Regions from separate parts of the Homo sapiens genome. Here region 2 is linked to region 1. The links come from fine-mapping of genetic effects on gene expression. A gene starts in region 1. The other region holds a variant in brackets. All regions are shown on one strand. Distances are from middle to middle. Region 1 holds the start of CLPP (caseinolytic mitochondrial matrix peptidase proteolytic subunit). Region 2 holds the start of ACER1 (alkaline ceramidase 1).

Region 1 (13,962 bases):
CACTTGTGGATATTCCAGCCCCAGAAAATCCTAGCTGAGCCCAGTGCAGATTCTCAAATTATGAGAAATGATAAGCTGTGGTTGTTTCAAACTCCTAAGTTTAGGGGCGGTTTGTTACACAGCACTAACTAACTGAAACACAGGTGTATGAACAACTCTGCCATAAGCTACTTTGGGGTCAAATCTTAGTGCACAGGTGCACACCTTTGATCATTTCCTAAAAACAAATAACTGGAAGTGGGTTCTGTGAATTTGAAATTTGGTGTCAACTTTGTTCCCAGAGAAGCTGTAGCAATGTCCATGAGCCATTCATTGGTGCATCCAGCATTTCATCCACAGCCTCTTCAGCACTGAGAGTTTCCTTTTCTTTTCCTAATTTTCAATTTCTATCATTTCAATAGGCCCATTTGCATTCATTCCAGAGAAGGTAACAGTGATGACAGCTTCTCTCTGATCATGGAGTGATAACCAAAAACCAGTAGGGCAGGTTGATTTGGAGCCAAGAGCCAAAATACTCATTCATTCAGAACTTACTGAGCAAGGTTTGGAGGAATGAAAACAACACATTAAATATTTATGGAGTCCTGGTGTGGTGGCTCACATCTGTAATCCCAGCACCAAGAGGCCGAGGCAGGTGTGAGGATCATTTGAGGCCATGAGTTCAACACCAGCTTGGACAACATAAGAGAAATTCTGTCTCTATAAAAACAGAAACAAAAATTAGCTGGGCGTGGTGGCTTGCGCCTATAGTCTCAGCTGCTTGGCAAGCTAAGGTGGGAGGATTGCTTGAACCCAGGAGGTCAAGGCTGCAGTGAGCCATGTTCACACCACTGTACTCTAGTCTGAGTGACAAGGCAAGACTCTACTTCAAAAAAAAAAGGAGACAAACTCACCTTCAACTCTTTCCCTCTGTTGACATCTCAGCGCTTTGGGAGGCCAAGGTAAGAGGGTTGCTTGACTCCAGGAATTTGAAACCAGCCTGGACAGCATAGTGAGACTCTGCCTCTACAAAATAAAAATAAATAAATAAAGTTGTTTTTCTTCTATTTCAGATCACTATCCACTTTAAGTCGTGGTTCTTGGCTGGGCATGGTGGCTCACACCTGTAATCCCAGCACTTTGGGAGGCAGAGGCAGGTGGATCACCTGAGGTCAGGAGTTCAAGACCAGCTTGACCAACATGCTGAAACCCCATCTCTACTAAAAATACAAAATTAGCCTGGCGTGGTGGCACGTGCATGTAATCCCAGCTACTTGGGAGGCTGAGGCAGGAGAATTGCTTGAACCTGCAAGGGAGAGGTGGCAGTGAGCTCAGATCACACCATTGCACTCCGGCCTAGGCAACAAGAGCGAAACCCCATCTCATAAAATAAAATAAATACAATAAAATAATAAAATAAAATAAAATAAATAAAATAAAATAAAACAGTGGTTCTCAGGCCAGCTGTGATGGCTCACACCTGTAATCTCAGCACTTTGGGAGGCCGAGGTGGGCAAATCACCTGAGGTCAGGAGTTTGAGACCAGCCTGGCCAACACGGTGGAACCCCATCTCTACTAAAAATACAAAAATTAGCCAGGCATGGTGGTTCATGCCTGTAGTCCCAGCTACTCAGGAGTTTGAGGCAGGAGAATCACTTGAACCCAGGAGGTGGAGGCTGCAGTGAGCCAAGATCACACCACTGCACCCCAGCCTGGACAACAGAGCAAGAGACCATCTCAAAAATAAAATAAAATAAAATAAAATAAATAAGTAAATAAATAAATAAATAGTGATTCTCAGCTGGGAGCGACTCTGCCCCCTGGAGGATACTTGGCAATGTCTGAGATACTTTTTACTGTTAGGGGGGCATTTTTTTTAATTGATGGGGGTAGGGGTGGGGGTGCTCCTGTTATCGAGTGGGTGGAGGCCAGAGATGCTGCTCAGCACCCTACAGTGGCCTGGGTGGCCTTTTGTACTTTCAAAGAATTCTCCAACTCAGATTTTCAATCGTGCCAAAGTTGAAAAACCCTACTTTAAGTGAAATGCAATAGAACAGGATCAAATAGAATAGAAAATATCAAAGGACATTGCTCAAATAATAAGTTTCATTTTATAAGACTTTTGTATTTTTGTGTACTCAGACACTATGTAAGATATGTTTCTCCTTGTGAGCCCTAATCAAAAAGGTTTAATGGGCTGAGTGCAGTGGCTCACGCCTGTAATCCCAGCACTTTGGGAGGCCAAGGCAGGAGGATTGCTCAAGCTCAGGAATTTGAGACCAGCCTCAGCAACATATCGATACCTTGTCTCTACAACAAAAACTTTAAAAACAGGAGAAGTGTCACTCCCTCTCCCTCTCCCTCTCCCCCCTCTCCCTTTCCCCACGGTCTCCCTCTCCCTCTCTTTCCACGGTCTCCCACTGATGCCGAGCCGAAGCTGGACTGTACTGCTGCCATCTCGGCTCACTGCAGCCTCCCTGCCTGATTCTCCTGCCTCAGCCTGCCGAGTGCCTGTGATTGCAGGCGCGCGCCACCACGCCTGACTGGTTTTCGTATTTTTTTGGTGGAGACGGGGTTTCGCTGTGTTGGCCGGGCTGGTCTCCAGCTCCTAAGTGCGAGTGATCCGCCAGCCTCGGCCTCCAGAGGTGCCGGGATTGCAGACGGAGTCTGGTTCACTCAGTGCTCAATGGTGCCCAGGCTGGAGTGCAGTGGCGTGATCTCGGCTTGCTACAACCTCCACCTCCCAGCCGCCTGCCTTGGCCTCCCAAAGTGCCGAGATTGCAGCCTCTGCCCGGCCGCCACCCTGTCTGGGAAGTGAGGAGCGTCTCTGCCTGGCCGCCCATCGTCTGGGACGTGAGGAGCCCCTCTGCCTGGCTACCCAGTCTGGAAAGTGAGGAGCGTCTCTGCCTGGCCACCACCCCATCTAGGAAGTGAGGAGCGCCTCTTCCCGGCCGCGACCCCATCTGGGAGGTGAGGAGCGTCTCTGCCCAGCCGCCCCGTCTGAGAAGTGAGGAGACCCTCCGCCTGGCAACCGCCCCATATGAGAAGTGAGGAGCCCCTCTGCCCAGCAGCCACCCCGTCTGGGAAATGAGGAGCGTCTCTGCCCGACAGCCACCCCACCCGGGAGGGAGGTGGGGGTCAGCCCCGCCAGGCCAGCCGCCCCGTCCGGGAGGGAGGTGGGGGGGGTCAGCCCCCCGCCCGGCCAGCCGCCCCGTCCGGGAGGTGAGGGGCGCCTCTGCCCGGCCACCCCTACTGGGAAGTGAGGAGCCCCTCTGCCCGGCCAGCCGCCCCGTCCAGGAGGGAGGTGGGGGGGTCAGCCCCCCACCCGGCCAGCCGCCCCGTCCGGGAGGGAGGTGGGGGGTTCAGCCCCCCGCCCGGCCAGCCGCTCCATCCGGGAGGGAGGTGGGGGGGTCAGCCCCCCGCCCGGCCAGCCGCCTCGGTCCGGGAGGTGAGGGGCGCCTCTGCCCGGCCACCCCTACTGGGAAGTGAGGAGCCCCTCTGCCCAGCCACCACCCCGTCTGGGAGGTGTACCCAATAGCTCATTGAGAACGGGCCATGATGACAATGGCGGTTTGGTGGAATAGAAAGGGGGGAAAGGCGGGGAAAGGATTGAGAAATCGGATGGTTGCCATGTCTGTGTAGAAAGAGGTAGACACGGGAGACTTTTCATTTTGTTCTGTACTAAGAAAAATTCTTCTGCCTTGGGATCCTGTTGATCGGTGACCTTACCCCCAACCCTGTGCTCTCTGAAACATGTGCTGTGTCCACTCAGGGTTAAATGGATTAAGGGCGGTGCAAGATGTGCTTTGTTAAACAGATGCTTGAAGGCAGCATGCTGGTTAAGAGTCATCACCACTCCCTAATCTCAAGTACCCAGGGACACAAACACTGCGGAAGGCCGCAGGGTCCTCTGCCTAGGAAAACCAGAGACCCTTGTTCACTTGTTTATCTGCTGACCCTCCCTCCACTATTGTCCTATGACCCTGCCAAATCCCCCTCTGCGAGAAACACCCAAGAATGATCAATAAAAAAATAAATAAAATAAATAAATAAATAAATAGACTGGACACCCTACTACCCATACCCAGTTTAAGATACAGATTACAACCAACACCGTTAAAGCCCTTTTGCATGCCCTTCTCCATCCCAGCCCCCTCCTAAATTTTGTTTATAATGATCTCGCTTTTCTTCATAATTTTACCTCCAAAATATGCATCTGTAAACAATATGCTGTTTTTGCAAGCTTTTGAACATTATATAAAATAAATCATACTGCATGTAAAAAAAAAAAAAAACTTTAAAAACATTAGCAGGTCCTGTTGGCGTGTGCCTGTGGTCCCAGCTACTTGGTAGACTGAGGTTGGGAGGATTCACCTGAGTCCAGAAGTATGAGGCTGCAGTGAGCTATGCACCAGAGCCAAACAAGATAGCAGAATGTTCTGCAGACAATAGAAAAAGAAACAAATGAATTAATGCAATTGTTTATGATGAAAGTCACACCAAGATGAAAATTAAACAAGGCAAATGTTCTAGAGTGCCTGGGATATTAGCAAAGGTGTTCAGGGAAGGCTTCTCTCAGGGATGACATCTGAGCTGAGACTTTTTTTTTTTTTTTTTTTTGAGATGGAGTCTCGCTCTGTCGCCCAGGCTGGAGTGCAATGGTGTAATCTTGGCTCACTGCAACTTCTGCCTCCCGGGTTCAAGCGATTCTCCTGCCTCAGTCTCTCCCAAGTAGCTGGGACTACAGGCGCAGGCCACCATGCCTGGCTAATTTTTGTATTTTTAGTTGAGACGGGGTTTCACCACGTTGGTCAGGCTGGTCTTGAACTCCTGACCTCAGGTGAGCCGCCCGCCTCCGCCTCCCAAAGTACTGGGATTACGGCCGTGAGCCACTCTGCCTGGCTTGACTCCAAGCAGAGTAAAGCAGAGGCTTTGTGGCTGGATTGAGCTTGATGTGTTTGGGGTGTGAAAAGCAGACCAGGGTAGGGAAGGAGATAAGGGGGGTCAGCAGGGGGGACGGGGAACCGCAGTTCAATTTAGGTTTCTCAGCCAAGCGCGGTGGTTCACACCTGTAATCTGAGGACTTTGGGAGGCTGACGCACATGGATCATTTGAGGTCAGGAGTTCGAGACCAGCCTGGCCAACATGGTGAAACCCCATCTCTACTAAAAATACAAAACTTATCTGGGCGTGATGGTGGGTGCCAGCTACTCAGGAGGTCGAGGCCCGAGAATCGCTTGAACCGGAGAGGCAGAGGCTTCAGTGAGCCGAGATCGCTTCACTGCACTCCAGCCTGGATGACAGAGTGAGACCCCGTCTCAAAAAAAAAAAAAAATTAGCTTTTTTGGGGATCTCTTAGAGTGAAGAATAGTGAAGAAGAGACAGTAGGTCACAGTGACGTGGGTGATACTGGAGCACCTGTTAGGGAGCTATTAACAATGAAGAAGGTGAAAAGCAGTTGCAATGGGGAGAAGTGAAGCTGATTAAACAAAGGGAGACAGGGAACACATCTAAGAGGACCCCGCCATCCCACGTCAGAGGCAGGGCAGGCAGGGGGTGCAGGGCAGCGTCCGGAGGAGTGAAGGAGTGGAGGAGTGGAGGAGTGGCTGCAGGGATGGTGGCAGCTGTTGTCCTGGCCCTTCTCCCCAGGGCGGGGGCAGGAGCTGCAGCCCTGGGGCAACCGGCCGGGCAGGGCCACCCACCTGACTCACAGCAGAAACTGGGACAGCAGCTGCCCTCCTACCTCCTCAATCCCAGCTGGAAATAAAAGTAAGATTCCAGACCTCTGGCCAACACCCTCTGAGCCCAAATGCCGGCTTTCCACCGTGAGGCCCTGCCTGCCAGCGCTGGCTGCCATGTGGGCTTTCTGCTTTGCGGACCTGCAAGGTATTCTCCTAACTCTGTCACCTTCAACTCCCTCCCTCTGTCTTACTCCTGATTCTACAAAACTGGGAGTGTCTGTGTCCCCTTCTATCTCCCCATCGGACTGCAGTCCCCTCGAGGTTACAGAGGGCACAAAATTATTCTTATCTAGGGTACCCAGCATCAAGTTTAAGAGTCCAGTGTCCCAGCTACTTGGGAGGCCGAGGCAGGAGAATGGCGTGAACCTGGGAGGCGGAGCTTGCAGTGAGCCGAGACCGCACCACTGCACTCCAGCCTGGGCGACAGAGCGAGACTCCATCTCAAAAAAAAAAAAAAAAGAGTCCAGTGGCCGGGCGCAGTGGCTCACGCCTGTAATCCCAGCACTTTGGGAGGCTGAGGCGGGTGGATCACCTGAGGTCGCGAGTTCGAGACTAGCCTGACCAACATGGAGAAACCCCGTCTCTACTTAAAATACAAAATTAGCTGGGCGTGGTGGTGGGCGCCTGTAATCCCAGCTACTCGGGAGGCTAAGGCAGAAGAATTGCTTGAACCTGGGAGGCGGAGGTTGTGGTGAGCCGAGATTGTGCCATTGCACTCCAGCCTGGGCAACAAGAGCAAAACTCTGTCTCAAAAAAAAAAAAAAAAAGAGTCCAGCTGGGCATGATGGTTCATGTCTCAGCAGTTTGGAAGGCTGAGGCAGGAGGATCACTTAAGTCCAGGAGTTCAAGACCAGCCTGGGCAACATAGGGAGACCCTGTCTCTACAAAAAATTTTAAAATTAGCCAGATGTGGTGACATGCACCTCTAGTCCTAGCTACTTGGGAGGCTGAGGTGAGAGGATAGCTTGAGCCCAGAGGTTCAAGGCTGCAGTGAGCTCTGATCACACCACTGTGCTCCAGCCTGGGTGACAGAGCGAGACACTGACTCAAAACAAAAAAAGAGTCTACCGCTTACTGCTTGGTAAACTTCTTATACATCAAAATCCACTTCAGGAGTCTCTCTGAATCTGCTGTGATTTTTTTTTTTTTTTTGAGATAGAGTTTTGCTCTTGTTGCCCAGGCTGGAGTACAGTGGTGTGATCTCGGCTCTCTGCAACCTCTGCCTCCTGGGTTCAAGTGATTCTCCTGACTCAGCCTCCCAAGTAGCTGGGATTACAGGCATTCACCACCATGCCGAGATAATTTTGTATTTTTAATAGAGACGGAGTTTCACTGTGTTGGTCAGGCTGGTCTCAAACCCCTGTCCTTAGGTGATCCACATGTCTTGGGCTCCCAAAGTGCTGGGATTGCAGGCATGAGCCACCACAACACCTCGCCTGAATCTGCTGTGATTCGAAGGACTGCCCCGGGAAAAAAAAGAAAAAAACACTTCAAGTAGACTCCCATGTGGGAGGACCTGAAGACTTCTCAGACTTCCATGGTCCCTGATCTAACACAGCAATAAATCATTCAAACTGAGCACTTTTTACACATTTTTGGACCCTTTCTGAGGACTTTCTGCACAAACCTAGGAGGTAGGTTATCATTATCCCCACTCTGCAGATGCCTCCAAAGCCCTCTACCTACCTCCTTTATCACCTCTTCATCTCTTGGTTCAATGTGTATTTAATGAGCACCTACTGTGTGTCAGGCACTATTCTAGACTTTGGGGATGAAGCAGTGGGCACCTCTTAGATAGTGACATTGAACTGAATGATGAAAAAGAATCTGGCTTGAGAAGGTGTGGCAAAAAAGAGAAGTCCCAACATTACCAGCAATCTTCCTACTTCCACCATTTTGCCCATTCTTTTTCCTCTGCTGGAAATGCCTTTCCCCAGCTAACAAACTCCTACTTATCCTGCAAAGCCCAATTCCAATACCTGCTTCTCCTAGGAATGCTTTCCGGTCTGATCTCCAGGAAGAATCCACAACACCCTTCTCTGGGCTCCCACAATCTACTCCACAGGTGGCCAAAAAATGAATGAGGAGGTCTCAGTAGAAGTCGGCCACACCAGGCTGGAAGCTCTTCAAGGCCAAGACCCAGGCTAAGTCCTCTCTGGGACCCCTCTTCCAAGATGAGCTGTGGGAACACTGCAGCTTTTTTTTTTTTTTTTGAGACGGTGTCTGGCTCTGTCGCCCAGGCTGGAGTGCAGAGGCGCCATCTCAGCTCACTGCAAGCTCCACCTCCCAGGTTCACACCATTTTCCTGCCTCAGTCTCCTGAGTAGCTGGGACTACAGGTGCCCGTCACCTCGCCCGGCTAATTTTTTGTATTTTTAGTAGAGACGCGGTTTCACCGTGTTAGCCAGGATGGTTTCGATCTCCTGACCTCGTGATCCGCCCACCTCAGCCTCCCAAAGTGCTAAGATTACAGGCGTGAGCCACTGTGCCCGGCCCTGCAGCTATTTTTAAAATAAGGAATAAGTGGGGTGTGGTGGCTCATGCCTGTAGTCCCAGCACTTTGGGAGGCAAAGGTGGGAGGATCACTTGAGGCCAGGAGTTTGAGACCAGCCTGGGCGACATAGTAAGACCCCATCTCTAATACATATATATATATATTTGCCAGATGTGGTAGCACACAACTGTAGTCCCAGCTACTCTGGAGAGCAAGGTGGGAGGGAGGGTTGCTTGGGCCCAGAAATTTGAGGCCACATTGAGCTAGGATGGCGCCACTGCACTCCAGCCTGGGCCACAGAGTGAGATTCTGTCTCAAAAAAATAAAAATAAATAAAGCAGAAACAGTAGAAAACGAAGACGAGGCCGGGCGCGGTGGCTCACGCCTGTAATCCCAGTACTTTGGGAGGCCGAGGTGGGAAGATCACGAGGTCAGGAGTTCAAGACCAGCCTGGCCAAGGTGAAACCCATCTCTACTAAAAATAACAAAATTAACCGGGTGCAGTGGTGTGCATCTGTAATCCCAGCTACTGGGGCAGCTGAGCCAGGAGAATGGCTTGAACCCAGAAGGCAGAGGTTGCAGTGACCCAACATCGTGCCACCGCACTCCAGCCTGGGTGACAGAGCAAGACTCCGTCTCAAAAAAAAAAAAAAAAGAAGACGAATTGGTCGGTAAGGGGACTCGAACTGGAGACTCTAAAACTTCTCCAGCCCTGCCCACTCAATTTACTTCATTGGCTCCTCCCTTTCAGGCTCCGTCCCTATCCCCGCCTCACCCTTAATGGCGCCCGCCCAGACTCCTGGAAGTGAGCGGCCTAGCGAGCGAGCTCCCAGGCGCAAAGCACGCCGGAAGCTGTAGTTCCGCCATCGGACGGAAGCCGACCGGGGCGTGCGGAGGGATGTGGCCCGGAATATTGGTAGGGGGGGCCCGGGTGGCGTCATGCAGGTACCCCGCGCTGGGGCCTCGCCTCGCCGCTCACTTTCCAGCGCAGCGGCCGCCGCAGCGGACACTCCAGAACGGCCTGGCCCTGCAGCGGTGCCTGCACGCGACGGCGACCCGGGCTCTCCCGCTCATTCCCATCGTGGTGGAGCAGACGGTACGGCGGCCGGGCGGGGACACGGTTCGGGGGCTCCGGGCTGGGTGGGGATCGGCTGGCTGCCCCGGCCCCTCACCTCCATCTTTCTACCCCCAGGGTCGCGGCGAGCGCGCCTATGACATCTACTCGCGGCTGCTGCGGGAGCGCATCGTGTGCGTCATGGGCCCGGTGAGCGCCCCGCGCCGGGACCCTCCCCAGGACTCTCCCAAGCGCCTGCCGACACTCCCTGCGCCCCTCCTTCCCTGGCCCCAGACTTTCCCTCAGGCTCCGCTCCCCTTCTAACCCCCTTCCCTCCCCTTCTGACTCCCCTCCTGGCTCCCGGTCCCCCAACCCGCTCCTCACCCCTTCTCTGCTCCTCGGCTCTTAATCTCCGACTTCCTTCCTGACACCTGGCACCGCTCCCCTCATTCCTACGCTCAAGACTCTCCCCAGCCATTCTCACCCCTTCCTTTCCTGTGTCCCTAGCCCCCTGACTCCCCCCTTCCTGTGCTCCAAACCCCCTGGGTCCTCTCCACTACTCTCTCCCCATCCCCTTCTGGGGCCTAAATTCTTCCCCATCCCTTTTACTTTGGGCTCTGGTCCCCCTTCCTGGTTCCCTGACCCATCCCCAGCCTCCCTTAAAACTCTCTCCCCACCCCGAATCTGGGGACACCCCTGCCCTCTCCACCTGCAGATCGATGACAGCGTTGCCAGCCTTGTTATCGCACAGCTCCTCTTCCTGCAATCCGAGAGCAACAAGAAGCCCATCCACATGTACATCAACAGCCCTGGTGAGCAGGGTCTTTCCTGGGTGCCAGGGGCACTCGTCAGGGCACACGGGTGACTCAGGGGACCAGAATCCCGGGTCAGGGATGTTCTCTCTCTGGGAAAGGGTGCAGAGCGTCAGAGTTCCAGAAGTGGCTTTAAACCACCAAAAGGTGCCTGTTGCTGGCTTTTGAGCCTCGGTTCACAAGTCAGGATGTGGCCTCTTTGATCCTGCACATACTGTTCTGCCAACCTGACCCGGCTGACATTTAAAAATTGGTAGATTTTAGGCCGGGCACAGTGGCTCACACCGGTAATCCCAACACTTTGGGAGGCTGAGGCGGGCGGATTGCTCGAGCTCAGGAGTTCAAGACCAGCCTGGGTAACGTAGTGAGACCCCATCTCTACAAAAAAAGTACAAAGATTAGCCGGGCAATGTGGCGTGTGCCTGTAGTCCCAGCAACTCGGAAGGCTGAGGGAGAAGGATCACTTGAGCCCAGGAGGTCGAGGCTGTAGTGAGCCCATCTCAAAAATAATCATAATTGGTAGATTTTTTCCCCCTCCCCAAAAAAAGTAGTCAATTTTGATTGAGCACTTATGATGGAGGCATTTTTTTTTTTTTTTATTGAGATGGAGTCTCGTTCTGTCACCCAGGCTGGAGTGCAGTGTTGCAATCTCAGCTCACTGCAACCTCTGCCTCCTTGGGTTCAAGCGATTCTCCAGCTTCAGCCTCTCAAGTAGCTGGGGATTACAGGCATGTGCCACCATGCCTGTCTAATTTTTTGTATTTCGTAGAGATGATGTTTCACCATGTTAGGCTGGTCTTGAACTCCTGACCTCAAGTGATCCACCCGCCTCAGCCTCCCAAAGTGCTGGGATTACAGGCATGAGCCACCACGCCTGGCCTGATTTCTAGTTTCTCTTGGAAATTTAGTAGATCTGATCCCATGGTCCACTGGCACATCTGGCAAGAGTCAGCTGACTGTAAAGCAAGCGCTCTGCCTTTTGCCTGCACCTGGGCCGTGTCACTTGTTTTTGTCACCTCCCAACCCCTGGAAGCATTTGTGTTTGTGAACCCTGCTTTAAAGAGCTGCTTCTAGACCGGACGCAGTGGCTTACGCTTGTCATTCCAGCACTTTGGGAGGCTGAAGTGGGCTGATCACTTGAGGTCAGGAGTTTGAGAGCAGCCTGGCCAACGTGGTGAAATCCCATCTCTACTAAAAATACAAAAATTAGCCGGGCATGGTGGTGTACTTGTAATCCAGCTACTCGGGAGGCTGAGGCAGGAGAATTGCATAAACCCGGGAGGTGGAGGTTGCAGTGAGCTGAGATCGCGCTACTGCACTCCAGCCTACGTGACAGTGAGACTCAGTCTCAAAAAAAAAAAAATAGCTGCTTCTGGCTGGGCATGGTGGCTCACACGTGTAATCCCAACACTTTGGGAGGATTGCTTGAGCCCAGGAGTTCGAGATCAGCCTGGGCAACATAGTGAAAGCAGTGAAACCCAGTCTTAATTTTTTTTTTTTTTTTTTGAGATGGAGTCTCGTTCTGTCGCCCAGGCTGGAGTGCGGTGGCGCTATCTCGGCTCACTGCAACCTCCGCCTCCCGGGTTCACGCCATTCTGCTGCCTCAGCCTCCGGAATAGCTGGGACTACAGGCACCCGCCACCACGCCCGGCTAATTTTTTGTATATTTAGTAGAGACGGGGTTTCACTGTGTTAGCCAGGATGGTCTTGATTTCCTGACCTTGTGATCCGCCTGCCTCAGCCTCCCAAAGTGCTGGGATTGCAGGCATGAGCCACAGCGCCCAGTCATATTAATTTTTAAAAAAGGAGGGGGGCTGCATCTGTTCCACCCTCCCCAGGTTTAGGAGATGGAATAGGGAAAGGGTCGGGGGGAGCTGGTCCAGCCCCTCACTTGCTCCCCCGCCCACAGGTGGTGTGGTGACCGCGGGCCTGGCCATCTACGACACGATGCAGTACATCCTCAACCCGATCTGCACCTGGTGCGTGGGCCAGGCCGCCAGCATGGGCTCCCTGCTTCTCGCCGCCGGCACCCCAGGCATGCGCCACTCGCTCCCCAACTCCCGTATCATGATCCACCAGCCCTCAGGAGGCGCCCGGGTGAGTGCCAGACACGCGAGCTGCTGTTGGGAATCAGGACAGGGTCTAGACAGAAGGACTGACTGGGCGGAAGTCAAGCGTGGGAGGGGATGTTTTTTTTTTTTTTTGAGATGGAGTCTCACTTTGTCGCCCAGGCTGGAGTGCAGTGGTGCGATCTCGGCTCACTGCAAGCTCCGCCTCCTGGGTTCACGCCATTCTTCTGCCTGAGCCTCCTGAGTAGCTGGGACTACAGGCGCCCGCCACCACGCTCGGCTTTTTGTATTTTTAGTGGAGACGGGGTTTCACCATGTTAGCCAGGATGGTCTCGATCTCCTGACCTCGTGATCCGCCCACATTGGCCTCCCAAAGTGCTGGAATTACAGGCGTGAGCCACCGCGCTGGGCCAGCCGGGAGTGGATGTCTTAAAATGTGCAGGCCAGGCTGGGTGTGGTGGCTCACGCCTGTAATCCTAGCACTTCGGGAGACAGAGGCGGGAGGATCACGTGAGCTCAGGAGTTCGAGGCCAGCCAGGGGAACATAATGAGACCTTGTCTCTATTAAAGAAAAAAAAAAAAAAGGCCAGGCATGGTGGCTCACGCCTGTAAATCTTGACACTTTGGGAAGCTGGAGCAGGTGGATCATTTGAGGTCAGGAATTCTAAACCAGCCTGGCCAACATGATGAAACCCCGTCTCTACTAAAAATACAAAAATTAGCTGGGCATGGTGGTGCGTGCCCATAATCCCAGCTGTTTTGGGAGGCTGAGATAGGAGAATCACTTGAACCCAGGAGGTGGAAGTGAGCTGAGATTGCGCCACTGCACTCAAGCCTGGATGACAGAGCAAGACTCTGTCTCAAAACAACAAAGGGAAAAAAAGAAAATGCACTGAGGAGTTGTTTGCTGTCTCTTGAGAATTAGCTTCAGCTGGGCACAGTGGCTCACATCTGTAATCCCAGCACTTTGGGAGGCCAAGGCAGGAGGATCACTTGAGGCCAAGAGTTTAAGACCAGCCTGGGCAATGGTGAGACCCCATCTCTACCAAATATTTAAAATGACTCGGGCATGGTTATGCTTGCCTCTGGTCCCAGCTACTCAGGAGGCTGAGGTGGGAGGATTGCTTGAGCCTGTGAGGTGAAGGCTGCAATGAGCTGTCTTGTACCACTGCATTCCAGCCCCAGCAACAGAGGAAGACCCTGTCTCAAAAAAAAAAAAAGGCGGCCAGGCATGGTGGCTCATGCCTGTAATCCCAGCACTTTGGGAGGCCGAGACAGGAGGATCACTTGAGGCCGGGAGTTTGAGACCAGTCTGGGCAACATAGCAAGACCCCATCTCTAAAAAAAAAAAACAAAAAACAAACAAAAAAAAGGCTTAGCTAATGCTGAGACAGAGAGACACTGTTCCTCCCAGTCTGCAAGGCTTCAGATGCAGAAAATAACATATACTTAATCCAGTCAGAAAGCCTTCCTGGTAGTGGCAAGACTGAAGCAGGATATCGGGGGATTTACACAACCCCAGCCCACCAGCCTCAAACCGGAAGCCCAAAGCCCAGGGAAGCTCCTGAGTGCCACCTCCAGCCTCCCTGTGAGGGGCTGACGCCGATACCAACCTTTACCCCCTCACTCCCTTGGACGTCCCTCAGGGCCAAGCCACAGACATTGCCATCCAGGCAGAGGAGATCATGAAGCTCAAGAAGCAGCTCTATAACATCTACGCCAAGCACACCAAACAGAGCCTGCAGGTGATCGGTAAGCACCCTCCTTTATTTCATCCTGGTCCGTGCACAGACGGACCAGGCGTTGCTCTAAG
Region 2 (16,084 bases), 20 kb before region 1:
TTTTTTTTTGAGATGAGGTCTCGCTCTGTCACCAGGCTGGAGTGCAGTGACACAATCTTGGCTCACTGCAACCTCTGCCTCCCGGGTTCAAGTGATTCTCCTGCCTTAGCCTCCTGAGTAGCTGGGACTACAGGCGCCCGGCACCATGCCTGGCTAATTTTTTGTATTTTTAGCACAGACGGCATTTCACCACGTTGGCCAGGATGGTCTTGACCTCTTGACCTCATGATCCACCCCCCTCGGCCTCCCAAAGTGCTGGGATTACAGGCGTGAGCCATAGCACCCAGCCAGCAAGCACTCTTCTGCTCACTGAGCAAGGCCTATGTGCAGGGCATAGAACTAAGCACTACGAGGCCGGGCGCCGTGGCTCACGCCTGTAATCCCAGCACTTTGGGAGGCTGAGGTGGGCGGATCACCTGAGGTCGGGAGTTCAAGACCAGCCTGGCCAACATGGTGAAACCCTGTCTCTACTAAAAATACAAAAATTAGCCAGGCGTGGTGGTGGGAACCTGTTATCCCAACTACTCGGGAAGCTGAGGCAGCAGAATGGCTTGAACGCGGGAGGCAGAGGTTGCAGTGAGCCGAGATCGCGCCATTACATTCCAGCCTAGGTGACAAAGCGAGACTCCGTTTCAAAACAAACAAACAAACAAACAAAAGAACTAAGCACTATGCCTGGATCCCATCATTCCCAGGGCTCCAGGCAAACACCTCTGTGTTCCCAGCACCCAGTATGGGCATGGCATAGCTGCACTGATCTTTGGCTTTAAGCTTTGGCTAAATGCCGTGATCATTTGTGCATTCCTATTTTTTTTTTTTTTTTTGAGACGAAGTCTCGCTCTTGTCCCTCAGGCTGGAGTGCAATGGTGCGATCTCGGCTCATTGAAACCTCCGCCTCCTGGGTTCAAGCCATTCTCTTGCCTCAGCCTCCCAAGCAGCTGGGATTACAGGTGCCTGCCACCAAACCTGGCTAATTTTTGTATTTTTAGTAGAGATGGGGTTTCACCATGTTGGCCAGGCTGGTCTCGAACTCCTGACCTCAGGTGATCCACTCACCTTGGCCTCGCAAAGTGCTGTGATTACAGGCGTGAGCCTCCGCGCCCGGCCTTTTTTTTTTTTTTTTTTTTTTGAGACAGGGTCTCCCTCTGTCACCCAGGCTGGAGTGCAGTGGTATGACCTCAGCTCACTGCATCCTCCACTTCTTGGGTTCAAGAAATCCTCCCCCCTCAGCCTCCCAAGTAGCTGGAACTACAAGCACACACCACCACACCCAGCTAATTTTTAAAAACTTTTTGTAGAGACAGGGTCTTGCTATGTTGCCCAGGCTGGTCTGGAACTCCTGGGCTCAAGCGATCTTCCTGCCTCTGCGTTCCAAATTGCTGGGGTTACAGGCATGAGCCATGGTGCTAGGTACATCCATGATTTTTTAGCACTTCCCATGTGGTGTTTTAACAGGGAAAGAGAAGACCACCTCAGAATGTCCAGAACTGAGGAGTTTCTCAGGAGGTGGGACTTTTTTTCTTCTTTTTTTGAGACAGTCTCGCTTTTTCACCCAGGCTGGAGTGCAGTGGCACAATCTCAGCTCACTGCAACCTCCGCCTCCTGGGTTCAAGCGATTCTCATGCCGTAGCCTCCTGAGTAGCTTGGACTACAGATGCCTGACACCGTACCCAGCTAATTTTTTATTTTAGTAGAGATGGGCTTTCACCACGTTGCCCAGGGCGATCTCCAACTCCTGAGCTCAGGCAATCCACCCACCTTGGCCTTCCAAAGTGCTAGGATTACAGACGTGAGCCACCGCGCCCAGCCAAGAGGTGAAACTTTTTAAATACTGAAACCAGGATAGTCCCAGGCACACTGGGACAAGTTGGTCAGTGGGTACAGCTGCAAACAAGACAGACACAATCACCTCTTCCAGGAAGCCTTTCCTGATTGGCCCACCCCCTCTAGCTCAGGGGCACCCTCTGCCTCCCCCTACCACAGCTGCCTCTGTGCCCTCCAAGAAGGCACCATCGCTCCCGGTTGCAAATGCCTGCAGTCACATCAGAGTTAGCTTAGGGAAGGCAGAGACCGGTTCTTTTCCTGGCCACCAATGTGTCTCCAAAACCTACCACAGAGCTTGGCATCAAGTAAAGACAAGTAAATGAATGAAAGCTGGCACTCTTTGGCTAACAGATGAGAAAACTAGGGCTGAGACAGGTGAACCACTCCAGCAAGATTCCCCAGTAAGGCTGTATGGGGAGGAACCGGGATTCGAACCGGCATCTGGCGAGACTCCTTCACACACCCACGCACTCACCGTGTTGTAGAACTCGGCCACCAGCTCCGAGTACTGGAAGTTGCTCTCACACCAGTCCACCTCGGAGCTCTGATAGGCGAAGATGCTAGGCATCTTGTCTCAGTGGCCACCACCAGCCGGCTGCGCCCGGCAGAGAGAAGGCGAGCTTGGGAAGGCTGGGCCCTGATGAGGCGGGGAGAGGACAGCCCGGTGCCCCGCGGCAGGCAGACTGGGAGGAAAAACCTGCTGGGCCGCTCCCCAGTTGCACCAGGGCAGCCTGGCTGTGCAGTGACAGCAGCCCTGAGCATAAGCCGTGGGACTGGCACTGTCCAGGCAGGGCAGGGGGCAGAAGTAGGCAGGGAAGAGGCCTCCCATCCAGATTACCCAGGAATAGGAATCGGGGTGGGGGCAGTGGAGGGAACTGTTTTTATCTTTTATGTATGTATGTATTTATTTATTAGAGTCAGGGCCTTGCTCTGTTGCTCAGGCTGGGGTACAGTGGCATCATCATAGCTCACCGCAGCCTCAAACTCCCAGGCTCAAGCAATACTCCTGCCTCAGCCTCTGAAGTAGCCAGGACCACAGGCACATGCTGCCACCATGCCTAGCTAATTGTTTTTTTTTTTGGAGACAGAGTCGCTCTGTTGCCCAGGCTGGAGTGCAGTGGCATGATCTCAGCTCACTGCAAGCTCTGCCTCCCGTGTTCACGCCATTCTCCCGCCTCAGCCTCCCGAGTAGCTGGGACTACAGGCGCCCACCGCCACGACCGGCTAATTTTTTGTATTTTTAATAGAGATGGAGTTTCACTGTGTTAGCCAGGATGGTCTCGATCTCCTGACCTCGTGATCCACCTGCCTTGGCCTCCCAAAGTGCTGGGATTATAGGTGTGCGTGAGCCACCGTGCCCGGCCTTTTTTTTTAAAATTGAGATGCAGTCTGGCTCTGTCACCCAGGCTGGAGTGTAGTGGCGCAATGTCAGCTCACTGCAACCTCCACCTCCTGGGTTCAAGCGATTCTCCTACCTCAGCCTCCCAAGTAGCTGGGATGACTGGCACCTGCCACCATGCCCAGCTAATTTTTTTTGTATTTTAGTAGAGATAGGATTTCACCATGTTGGTCAAGCTGGTCTCGAACTCCTGACCTCAGGTGATCTGCCCACCTTGGCCTCCCAAGGTGCCGGGATTATACGCATGAGCCACCTCACCTGGCCTGAGTTCCTCTACTTTAAGCTGTGTGACCTTGGGCAAGTGAATTTACCTCTCTGATCCTCTGTTTGCTCACCTGTCATATGGAGACGATGGTGACAGAGCCAACTGTAACAAAGGAAGACAGAGATAAAGCATGTACAAAGGCTTAGCCCACTGCCTATGCTAGAGTAGGCACTTGATGGATGGTAATGGGTTTTCTTTTTTTTTTTGAGATGGAGTCTTGCTCTGTCCCAAAGTGCTGGGATTACAGGGTTTTCTTACTGAAGCTGACCTTGAACTTTAAGTCAACTTTGTGGGAATAATAATAATTATTATTATTATAATAAAAGAGCCTGGCCTTAGCAAGCGGTTAGCAAGTGTGCATAACAATAATAATATAATTATTTATTATATAATAGCAATATTATATTAAAATATAAAATTATTATATTAAAAATACTATTGTTATATAATATTTTAAATATTTTAGTATATTATTTTAATGTGATTAATATAATTTAATATAATAATTAATATTATATATTATATAATTTTTCTTTTTTTAAGTGCTTGATTTTCAGTATTATCTCATTTAACGTTCTTTTTTTTTTTTTTTTTTGAGATGGAGCCTCACTCTGTCTCCCAGGCTGGAGTGCAGTGGCATGATCTTGGCTCACTGCAACCTCCACCTCCCTAGTTCAAGCAATTCTCCTGCCTCAGCCTCCTGAGTAACTGGGACTACAGGCACCTGCCACCATGCCCAGCTAATTTTTGTATTTTTAGTAGAGACGGGGTTTCACCATATTGACCAGGCTGGCCTCAAACTCCTGACCTTGTGATCTGCCCGTCTCGACTTCCCAAAGTGCTGGGATTACAGGCGTGAGCCACTGTGCCCGGCCTTCATTTAATGTTCTTAACAATCCTACCCCGGGTGCTGTGGCTCACGCCTGTAATCCTAGTGCTTTGGGAGACCAAGGCGGGAGGATCACAAGGTCAGGAGATTGAGACCATCCTGGCTAACACAGTGAAACCCCATTTCTACTAAAAATACAAAAAAGGTAGCTGGGCGTGATGGTGGGTGCCCATAGTCCCAGCTACTCAGGAGGCTGAGGCAGGAGAATGGCATGAACCCAGGAGACGGAGCTTGCAGCGAGCCAAAATTGCACCACTGCACTCCAGCCTGGGTGACAGAGAAAGACTCTGTCTAAAAAAAAAAGAAAAAATCCTAAGCGCCAGGAACTATTGTTATCCCTTTTCTTTTTCTTTTTTTTCTTTTTCTTTTCTTTTTTTTTTTGAAATAGAGTTTCACTCTTGTCACCCAGGCTGGAGTGCAATGGCATGATCTCAGCTCACTGCAACCTCTGCCTCCCAGGTTCCAGCGATTCCCCTGCCTCAGCCTCCCAAGTAGCTGGATTTACAGGCACCCGCCAGCATGCCCGGCTAATTTTTGTATTTTTAGTAGAGACGGGGTTTCACCATGTTGGCCAGGCTAGTCTCGAACTCGTGACTTCTGGTGATCCACCTGTCTCGGCTTCCCAAAGTGCTGGGATTACAGGCTTGAGCCACTGTGCCTGGCCTCTTTTTCTCTTTTGAGACAGGGTCTTGCTCTGTTGCCCAAGCTGGAGTGCAGTGGCGCAATCATAGTTCAATGCAGCCTTGCTTGATCTCCTGAGCTCATGCGATCCTATCTCCTGCTAGTAATCACTAGCAAGGAAACTAAAGCCCAGAGAAGTTAAGGAACTTACCATAGGTCACACAGTTAGGAAGTGATAGAGACAGGCAAGGAACACCACCTCTATGATGCCTCAGTTTCCTCACCTGTAAGGTGGTGAAAATGATAATGGTACTGCCCTCTCAAGCCTGTTGTGAAGAGTTAGTGAGCTGACACGATGTTTCCATAAAAAGATAAATTGTGGGCTGGGCACGGTGGCTCATGCCTGTAATCCCAGCACTTTAGGAAGCCAAGGCAGGCGGATCACGAGGTCAGGAGATCAAGACCATCCTGGTTAACATGGTGAAACCCCGTCTCTACTAAAAATATAAAAACCTAGCCAGGCATGGTGGCGGGCGCCTGTAGTCCCAGCTACTTGGGAGGCTGAGGCAGGAAAATCGCTTGAACCTGGGAGGTGGAGGTAGTAGTGAGCCGAGATCACGCCACTGCACTTCAGCCCGGGCGACAGATCGAGACCCCGACTCAAAAAAAAAAAAAAAAAAGAAAAAGAAAGATAAATTGTGGTGCTATGTTGCCCTGCATTCCAAATCACTGAACTGGCCGGGCATGGTGGCTCACCCCTGTAATCCCAGCACTCTGGGAGGCTGAGGCAGGTGGAGCACTTGAGGTCAGGAGTTCAAGACTAGCCTGGCCAAAATGGTGAAACCCCGTCTCTACTAAAAATACAAAAATTAGCCTGGTGTGGTGGCACGCGCCTGTAATCTCAGCTACTCAGGAGACTGAGGCAGGAGAATAGCTTGAACCCAGAAAACGGAGGTTGCAGTGAGCCGAGATTGCACCACTGCACTCCAGCCTGGGCGACAGGGTGAGACTCCCTCTCAAAAAAAAAAAAAAAATCACTGTGGTGTCTGAAAGTAATCAACTTTTTCAATTTCCAATATTTGGAGAAGAGAGGCTCAGTCAGTGCTAATATGTTCTATGTCTCTTAACACTTAATGACTTTGACAAAAAAGAAAAGAAAAGCCCTTCATTAGGCAACAATATTCTGTTAGAATTTAGTAACATGATTTGTTTACATTGTATTTATTTTTTGATAAGCTTGTATTCATGGTAAGCCAAATCTACTTTCCATTCACGGTAGGGTTACAAAGTTTCCTTTTTTTTTCTTTTTTTTTTTGAGATGGCGTTTGCTCTGTCCCCCAGGCTGGAGTGCAATGGCATGATCTCGGCTCACTGCAACCTCCACCTCCCAGGTTCAAACGATTCTCTTGCCTGAGCCTTCTGAGTAGCTGGGATTACAGGCGTGGACCACCCTGCCTGGCCAAAGTTTTCTTTTTCTTTTTCTTTTCTTTTCTTTCTTTCTTTCTTTTTTTTTTTTTTTTTTTTTTTTTTTTTTTTGAGATGGAGTCTTGCTCTGTCGCCCAGGCTGGAGTGCAGTGGCTCGATCTTGGCTCACTGCAAGCTCCGCCTCCTGGGTTCATGCCATTCTCCTGCCTCAGCCTCCCGAGTAGCTGGGACTGCAGGCACCCACCACCAACGCCTGGCTAATTTTTTTGTATTTTTAGTAGGGACAGGGTTTCACCATGTTAGCCAGGATGGTCTCGATCTCCCGACCTCGTGATCCACCCACCTCGGCCTCCCAAAGTGCTGGGACTACAGGCGTGAGCCACCGCGCCCAGCCCCAGAATTTTCTTTTTAAAATAATATTTTGGCCCAGTGCAGTGGCTTACACCTCTAATTCCACCGCTGCACTCTAACCTGGGCAAAAAGAGGGAAACCCTGTCTCAAAAAAAAATAGTTAATTAAATAAAATAAAAATAAAATAATAAAATAAATATGTATTTTTTAAGAGATGGAGTCTTGCTCCGTTTCCTAGGCTGGAGGGCAGTGGTAAAATCCTAGCTCACAGCAATGTCAATTTCCTGGGCTCAAGCAATCTTCTCACCTTCGCCTCCCAAGTTGCTGGGAGTACAGGTATGAGCTACTGTGCCCTGGCCAAAATAAATGTAAGTGTTACAATTGTGGTTGTGTTTGCACAGATCTATACATGTGATATTATTGCATAGATTTGCTCCCATTTTTCTGAGAAAATGAAAAGAAAATTGTCTAACACATGAATGCATGGGAAAAGCTGTTGAAATCTGAATATGGTCTATAGGTCATATTTATATCACCTTTCTGGTTGTGAAAATGTATAGTTATAAAAGAGGTACCACTGGGAGAAACTGGATGAAGATTACCTGGGATTCTTCTATATTATTATTGCAGGTTCCTGCAAGTTTATAATTATTCCATTTTTTTTAATGTGTTTGATAGAGGGTCTCACTCTGCTGCCAGGCTTGAGTGCAGTGGTGCAATCACAGGCCACTGCAGCCTCAACCTCCTGGGCTCAAGTGATCCTCACACCTTAGCCTCCCAAGTAGCTGGGACTACAGGCCAGGCAAATTTTTTCTATTTTTTGTAGAGACAGGTTCTCACTATGTCTCCCAGACTGCTCTCTAATTCCCGAGCTCAAGCGATCCTTCCACCTCAGCCTCCCAAAGTGCTAGAATTACATGTGTGAGCCACCGCACCTGGCCTTAAAATCTTTTTTTTTTTTTAAGACCGAGTCTCTTCCTGTCATCCAGGCTAGAGTGCAATGGTGCAATCTCGGCTCACTGCAACCTCCGCCTCCTGGGTTCAAATGATTCTCCTGCTTCAGCCTCCCGATAGCTGGGATTACAGGCGCCCACCACCACGTCGGGCTAATTTTTACATTTTTAGTAGAGATGGGGTTTCAGCATGTTAGCCAGGCTGGTTTGGAACTCCTGACCTCAGGTGATCCGCCTGCCTCAGCCTCCCAAAGTGCTGAGATTACAGGCATGAGCCACCGCACCCAGCCTAAAAATCTCTTTTTATAAAGGGATTGATTTAGATTTTTAATTAATACATGAATGGATAAACACAATGTGTGTGGTTCATCCATACCGTGGAATATTATTCAGCCCTGAAAAAGGAAGGAAATTCTGATACAGGCAACAACGTGGATGGACTTTGAGGACATCAAGCTGGGTGAAATAAGCCAGACATAAAAGGACAAATCCTGTGTGATCCCACTCCTAGGAGGTCCCCAAAGTCCTCAGAGTCACAGAGACAGGAAGTAGAACGGGGGGTATGAGGGGCTGGGGAGGGGGATAGGGAGTGAGTGTTTCTTGGGGACAGAGTTTCAGTTTGGAAAGATGAGAAAGTTCTGGAGGGGATGGTGGTGATGGCTGCATAGACATGCGAATGTGCTTAATGCCGCTGAACTATGCATTTGATGATTAAAATGATCAGTTTCGTGTTATGTATCTTTTACCACAATTTTACAAAGTAATGATTTAGGGTTTTTGTTTTTGTTTTTTGTTTTTTGAGATGGAGTCTCTCTCTGTTGCCCAGGCTGGAGTGCAGTGGTGCGATCTCGGCTCACTGCAAGCTCCGCCTCCCGGGTTCACGCCATTCTCCTGCCTCAGCCTCCCGATGGGACTACAGGCGCCCGCCACCACACCCGGCTAAGTTTTTTTTGTATTTTTAGTAGAGACGGGGTTTCACCGTGTTAGCCAGGATGGTCTTGATCTCCTGACCTCATGATCCGCCCGCCTCAGCCTCCTAAAGTGCTGGGATTACAGGCGTGAGCCACCACGCCTGGCCTGATTTAGGTTTTTAAAAGAGGGGTTTGGGGCTGGGCGTGGTGGCTCACACATGTAATCCCAGCATTTTGGGAGACTGAGGCAGGTGGATCACTTGAGGTCAGGGTTCAAGACCAGCCTGGCCAACATGGTGAGACACCGTCTCTACTAAAAATAAAAAAAATAAAATTAGCCAGGCGTGGTGGTGCGTGCCTGTAATCC[CA/C]GCTACTCGGGAGGCTGAGGTACGAGAATCACTTGAGCCTGGGAGGTGGAGGTTGTAGTCAGCCAAGATCGCGCCACTACACTCCAGCCTGGGCATAGAGCAAGACTCTGTCTCCAAAAAAAGAAAGAAGGAAGGAAGGAAGGAAGGAAGGAAGGAAGGAAGGAAGGAAGGAAGGAAGGAAGGAAGGAAGGAAGGAAGGAAGGAAGGAAGAAAAACAGAACTAAAGCTTGACCTGACTCTGTATAGCACCCCTCCACAAACATACACCATTTAGCTACAGCCCTAGCCCCCAAATCCGCTTCCCAGGTGGACCAGGAGGGCAAACAGACACCACCACTGCCACCCCAGCTCCCCAGTAGCGACCCTGACTCCTTCCCCATGGAGTAATTTTGAAACAGTCTCTGCTCTGTGTGTGGGTGGAGCAGATGGTCTCTGAGGCCCCTTTCTGCTCATAGCTGGAACAGGACCCAGCTGCTGAGATCCTGAATCTTGGCGAGGGTTTAATAGCAGGCAGTAAGGTAGTGACTGGCACCCACGCCCAGCCCAGACCGGAGAACTTGAGTGATCATGGTGCTGACTAGGGAGGACAGAGCAGCCAGGAAGGTGGGTGGGAGCCGGGGGAGAGCTCTTCCCCCGCTAGGGGGAGAGAAGGGGCTAGAGAGAGGGTGACAAACAGAGGCGTGTGAGCTCTCAGCGGTTATTGTAACAAATGCCACCAATGTAATGGCTTAGAACAGCACACACTTATCATCTTACCTTTCTACAGGTCAGGACTCTGAAATGAGTCTTATAGGCTAAAGGTGTCATCACAGCTGTGTTCCTGGTGGAGGCTCCAGGAGAGACCTCGTTTCCTGCCCCGTCCAGTGTCTAGAGGCAACCCATGTCCTGTTCTCCACCTTCACAGCCACAGTGCAGCCTCTTCCAGTCTCTCTCTGACTTTGTTCTTTTCTTTTGAGACGGAGTCTTGCTCTGTTGCCCAGGCTGGAGTGCACTGGCGCGATCTCGGCTCACTGTAACCTCCACCTCCAGGGTTCAAGCAATTCTTGTGGCAGGAGAATCGCTTGAACCCAGGAGGTGGAGGTTGCAGTGAGCCAAGATTTCGCCACTGCAAACCAGCCTGGGCAACAGAGCGAGACTCCATCTCAAAAAAAACAACAACAAAAAACCAGTCTAGGCAACATAGGGGACCCTGTTTCTACAAAACATTAAAAAGTTAGCCAGTGGGGGTACACACGTGTGGTCTTAACTTCTCAGGAAGCTGAGATGGGAAGATTGCTTGAGCCTAAAGGTCGAAGTTGCAGTGAGCTATGTGTGCACCACTGCACTCCAACCTGGGCCACAGAGCAAGACCTTGTCTCAAAAAAAAAAAAAAGAAAAAAAAAGAAAAAGAAAAAGAAAAAAGGAACTATACCCATCTTAGCATTGGGCTTTTTTTTGTTTTCTTTTGTTTTGTTTTGTTTTGTTTTTCTTTTTGTTTTGAGATGGAGTCTTGCTCTGTCACCTAGGCTGGAGTACAATGGTGCAGCAGCCTCCACTCACCACAACCTCTGACTACTGGGTTCAAGCGATTCTCCTACCCCAGCCTCCCAAATAGCTGGGATTACAGGCACCCGCCACCATGCCCGGCTAATTTTTTTTATTTTTAGTAGAGACGCGGGTTTCACCAGGTTGGCCAGGCTGGTCTTGAACTCCTGACCTCATAATCTGCCTGCCTTGGCCTCCCAAAGTGCTAGGATTACAGGCGTGAGCCACTGCACCCAGCAGTGTTGGTTTTAATACTTGCTTTCTATTTATTTAGTAGCTTTCCATGTAGTGGAGCAATATAAAATTTCCTTTTGAAGTAAAGATATGCATTAATATTTGGAAAGTGTTTTTGGAAAATGAACTTGTTTAAAGACAGTGTTTAAGTCAATAATGGTTACCGTACAGATGGGGAAAATTTTAGTCTAACAATGCCCAAAGTCACAAAGGACATTATTGGGTAATTGGTGAAATTTGCACATGGAATATAAAGTAGATAATAGTATTGTGTCCATATTTATTTTCTGAAGTAGATAAATGAATTCTGGTTGTGTAAGAGAGTATCCTAGTTCTTTTTTTTTTTTTTTTTTTTTAAGATGGAGTTTCACTCTGTTGCCCAGGCTGGAGTGCAGTGGCTTGATCTTGGCTCACTGCAATTTCTGTTTGAGTTCGAGACCAGCCTGGGCAACATAGGCAGACTGTGTCTCTAAAAAAAAATAATAATAATCCATTTTAAAAACAAACTATTTCAGACCGGGAGTGGTGGCTCACACCTGTAATCCCAGCACTTTGGGAGGCTGAGGCGGGCGGATCACGAGGTCAGGAGATTGAGACCATCCTGGCTAACATGGTGAAACCCCGTCTCTACTAAAAATACAAAAAATTAGCCAGGCGTGGTGGCGGGCGCCTGTAGTCCCAGTTACTCAGGAGGCTGAGGCAGGAGAATGGCGTGAACCCAGGAGGTGGAGCTTGCAGTGAGCCAAGATCGTGCCACTGCACTCCAGTCTGAGCAACAGAGCAAGACTCAATCTCAAAAAAATAAATAAATAAATACAATAAAATAAAAACAAACTATTTCAAGATAAAAAGTTGTGGGTTTGTTTGTTTTGAGACGGAGTTTTGCTCTTGTTGCCCAGGCTGGAGTCCAATGGCATGATCTCGGCTCACTGCAACCTCCACCTCCCGAGATCAAGTGATTCTCCTGCCTCATCCTCCCGAATAGCTGGGATTACAGGCACCCGCCACTGTGCCCGGCTAATTTTGTATCTTTAGTAGAGACAGGGTTTCTCCATGTTGGTCAGGCTGGTCTCGAACTCCCGACCTCAGGTGATCCGCCCACCTTGGCCTCCCAAAGTGCTGGGATTACAGGCGTGAGTCACCGCACCCAGCCAAAAGTTTTTTCTTTAACTTGCCGATTCCGAGTACTGGTGAGGATGGGAAGTGGGGGAGTGGTGGAAATATGAAGAGGCCAACCACTTTGGAAAATAATTTGACATTACCTGAAGCATTACTGGGTACAGTAGTTCAACTGTTAGAACAAGACAATTCCACAAATATCAGTGTCCTAAAAGTTTACATCTCACATAAGCAAAGAGTATGGAGGGTGAAGCTGTCCCAGAAGGCTCAGGCAAGTGGGAATTTAGCAATCCAGGCCCCTTCCTTCCTTCTCATGATGCCTCCATCCCAGCATGTGGCCTCCATCCCAACACGTGACCTCCATCTCAACATGTGGCCTCCACTCCCAATATGTGGCCTCCACTTTCAACATGTGGCCTCCATACCCATCAAGTGGCATCCATCTCAACGTGGGGCCTCCACTCACAAAATGTGGGCTTCCTCCCAACTTGTGGCTCTAAATCCCAAAATGTGCCCTTTGCTCCCAACATGTGGCCTCCATACCCATCATGTGGCCCCCACCTCAACATGTGGCCTCCACTAACAAAATGTGGGCTTCCTCCCAACTTGTGGCTCTCAATCCCAACATGGCTTTGGTGTACCTCTATTGGTCAGAACTAGTCACATGACCTCCACTAGATGAAAGGGTTGCTGGGAAATGTAATCTGTAGCACAGCAGCCACTTCCTGGTATCCACTTTACCCTGTGGGAAGGGAGCCTGAATCTTTAAACCACAACAGGCTGCCTCCATCACATTCAGTAAAGGTGCAAATGAACATGTCCTACAACCAGCAACTCATCTCCTGGATTTATGTCCCCCTGAGAAACTCCCACAAATGGACCCAGGATTCTGGTACAAGATTATTCAGAGCAGCCCTGCCTGCAATAGCAAAACCATGGAACTATTCACAAACATCCCTGAGTTAAAGACTTGATAAGTAGGCCGGGCATGGCAGCTCATGCCTGTAATCCCAGGAGCTCAAGACAGGTGGATCACCTGATGTCAGGAGTTCGAGACCAGCCTAGTCAACATAGTAAAACCCTGTCTCTACTAAAAATACAAAATATTAGCCAGGCGACGGGAGGCTGAGGCAGGAGAATGGCCCGAACCCAGGAGGTGGAGCTTGCAGTGAGCCGAGATTGCGCCACTGCACTCCAGCCTGGGCGACAGAGCGAGACTCCGTCTAAAAATATATATATAAATATATATATATTAGCCAGGCATGGTGGGGCACCTTTAATTCCAGCTACTCAGGAGGCTGAGGCATGAGAAGCGCTTGAACCCAGGAGGCAGAGGTTGCAGTGAGCCAAGATTGTGCCATTGCACTCCATCTTGGGCAACAAGAGCAAAACTCCATCTCAATAAATAAATAAATTTATTTATTTATTAAATAAAGACTCGTTAAGTAAATAGTGGATTCTCCTGCCTCAGCCTCCCTAGTAGCTCGGACTACAGGCACCCACAACCATACCTGGCTAATTTATTGTATTTTTAGTAGAGACAAGGTTTCACCATGTTGGCCAGGCTGGTCCTGAACTCCTGACCTCAAGTGATCCGCCTGCCTCAGCCTCCTAAAGTGCTGGGATTACAAGCGTGAGCCACCGCACCTGGCCTGTGTGGGTATAAGTTTTCAATGCATCTAGGTAAATACAAGGGGGCACAATTGTTGGATTATTTTGTTGTTTTTTTCTTTAAACCATATATGTATGTTATATATCCTCTTGTGAAGATATATTTCACAACAATCAATTTATTTTATTTTATTTTATTTTATTTTATTTATTTATTTGTTTATTTTTTTGAGATGGAGTCTCGTTCTGTCATCCAGGCTGGAGTGCAGTGGCACGATCTCGGCTCACTGCAACCTCCGCCTCCCGGGTTCACACCATTCTCCTGCCTCAGCCTTCCAAGTATCTGGGACTACAGGTGCCCGCCACCACACCTGGCTAATTTTTTGTATTTTTAGTAGAGACGGGGTTTCACCACGTTGGCCAGGATGGTCTTGATCTCCTGGCTGGTCAAGGCTGGTCTCAAACTCCTGACCTCAGGTGATCCACTGGCCTCTGCCACCCAAAGTGCTGGGATTACAGGCGTGAGCCACCGTGCCCGGCCTCCGTGTGTTGTTTGTAAATGAAGTTATGTGGATAAATTTTTATTGGCACACGGTCACACCCATTTGTTTGTAAGTTGTCTATGGCTACTTTTATGCTATAATGCAGCAATCTGCAAGCTTTTTGTCACCCAGGACCAGTTTTGTGCAAGACAATTTTATCACGGAGGTGTGGAATGGTTTCAGGATGATTCAAGCACATTACATTTATTGTTCACTATTTCTATTAGTATTACACTGTAATATATAATGAACTAATTATACAGCTCACATAATGTAGAATCAGGGAAAGCCCTCCCCTTGTTTTCCTGAAACTAGACTGTCCCAGCTGGGGGTGATGGGAGACAGTGACAGATCATCAGGTATTAGATTCTTTTTTTTTTTTTTTTTCAAATGGAGTCTCACTCTGTCACCCAGGCTGGAGTGCAGTGGTACGATCTCAGCTCACTGAAATCTCGGCCTCCTGGGTTCAAGCGATTCTCTTGCCTCAGCCTCCTGAGTCGCTGGGATTACAGGCGCGCACGACCATGCCCAGCTAATTTTTGTATTTTTTGTAAAGACAGGGTTTTACCATGTTGCCCAGACTGGTCTCCAACTCCTGACCTCAGATGATCCACCTGCCTTGGCCTCCCAAAGTGCTGGGATGACAGGCATGAGCCACCATGCCTGGCATCATCCAGCTAATTTTATTATAATAATAATAATAATTATTATTATTGGAAATGGGGTCTCCCTATATTGCCCAGGCTGCTTTCAAACACCCAGGCTCAAGTGATCCTCCCACCTCAGCCTCCCAAGCTGCTGGGATTCCAGGCGTGAGCCACTGTGCCTGACCATCACATCATCTTCCAAGGTGGGTTAATTCCATGACTTACTAGAAGAAGGGTTGCCAGATAAAATACAGGACACCCAGTTAAATCAGAATTTCAGATTAACGATGGATAAGTTTTTGGCATAAATATGTTCCAAATATTGCATATGATCGGATTATCCTAAAAATTATTCTTCATGTATCTGAAATTCAAATTTAAATGAGCCTCCTGTATTTTTATGTGCTAAATCTGGAGACTCTAATCTGGAAGTATCTCTTCAACTGAGCCTGTCTCATTCCTTCCTCCAAAAAAAAGTTCGAGAAAAGTTTTCATTAAGTGGCATTATGTCATTTCTACTGCCTCCTCTACCTAAATCCAATAACCTCAAATGGGTATTCTAAGGTTATTGGTTATTAACCTTTTATTTCACTCATTCTTTTCTCCTCCTCCTCCTCCTCCCCCTCCTCTTCCTCCTCCTTCTTCTTCTCCTTCTTCTTCTTCTTTTTTTTCTTTTCTTTTTTTTTTTTTTTGAGACAGGGTCTTGCTCTGTCACCCAGGCTGGAGTGCAGTGCTGCAATCATAGCTCACTGCAGCCTCAATCTCCTGGCTGGAGCAATCATCACACCTTGGCCTCCCAAAATGCTAGGATAATCCTGGGGCCTCTCTCCTTGGCTTCTAGATGGCTGTCCACCAGCCATCTACATCTGGTGGTCAGCCACCACCCCCAGCCGCTGTTTTCCATCAGTCCATTCTAAGGTTCAAAGGTTTAAAATCTGTCCATCTAGCTCAGAACTCAGATGTATTTTCTTCAACATCACAGCGGAGATTACTCTGGTCCAGCGGGGAGGAGGTTCTCTGCCCACCCCCTTCTTTCCTTCCTTCTTGAAGGCTGAGACCGAGGAGGGAAAAAAGGAAAGATAAAGAGGGATCTTACTGTTATGGCTTGAATTGTATTCTCTAAAAAGATGTGTTGCAGACAGGGCATGGTGACTCACATCTATAATCTCCGCACTTTGGGAGGCCAAGGAGGGAGTATCGCTTGAGGTCAGGAGTTTGAGACCACCCTGGCCAACACCACGAGTCCCTGTCTCTACAAAAAAAAAAAATATATATATATATATATATATAAAATAATAATAAAAGATAAGTTACAGACCCCCTCGTCCCTCAGAATGTGACCTTGCTTGGAAATAGTCTCTTTTTCTTTTCTTTTCTTTTTCTTTTTTTTTTTTTTGAGAC

What was found.
Region 2: its variant is fine-mapped to the expression of CLPP in cerebellum (GTEx, PIP 0.92).

Annotation. Positions count from the first base shown.
Region 1 is chr19:6,352,463-6,366,424 of GRCh38, forward strand. CLPP (caseinolytic mitochondrial matrix peptidase proteolytic subunit) reads left to right here and starts at 9,069. Exons shown (of 6, transcript NM_006012.4): 1 at 9,069-9,310; 2 at 9,407-9,478; 3 at 9,984-10,080; 4 at 11,990-12,177; 5 at 13,796-13,901. The coding sequence starts at 9,113. It also overlaps a transcript of ACER1 not described here. RefSeq lists a silencer at 9,316-9,545 and an enhancer at 9,744-10,701.
Region 2 is chr19:6,331,160-6,347,243 of GRCh38, forward strand. ACER1 (alkaline ceramidase 1) reads right to left here and starts at 2,453. Exons shown (of 6, transcript NM_133492.3): 1 at 2,300-2,453. The coding sequence starts at 2,392. The variant CA/C (reference allele first, on the strand shown) is at 9,006.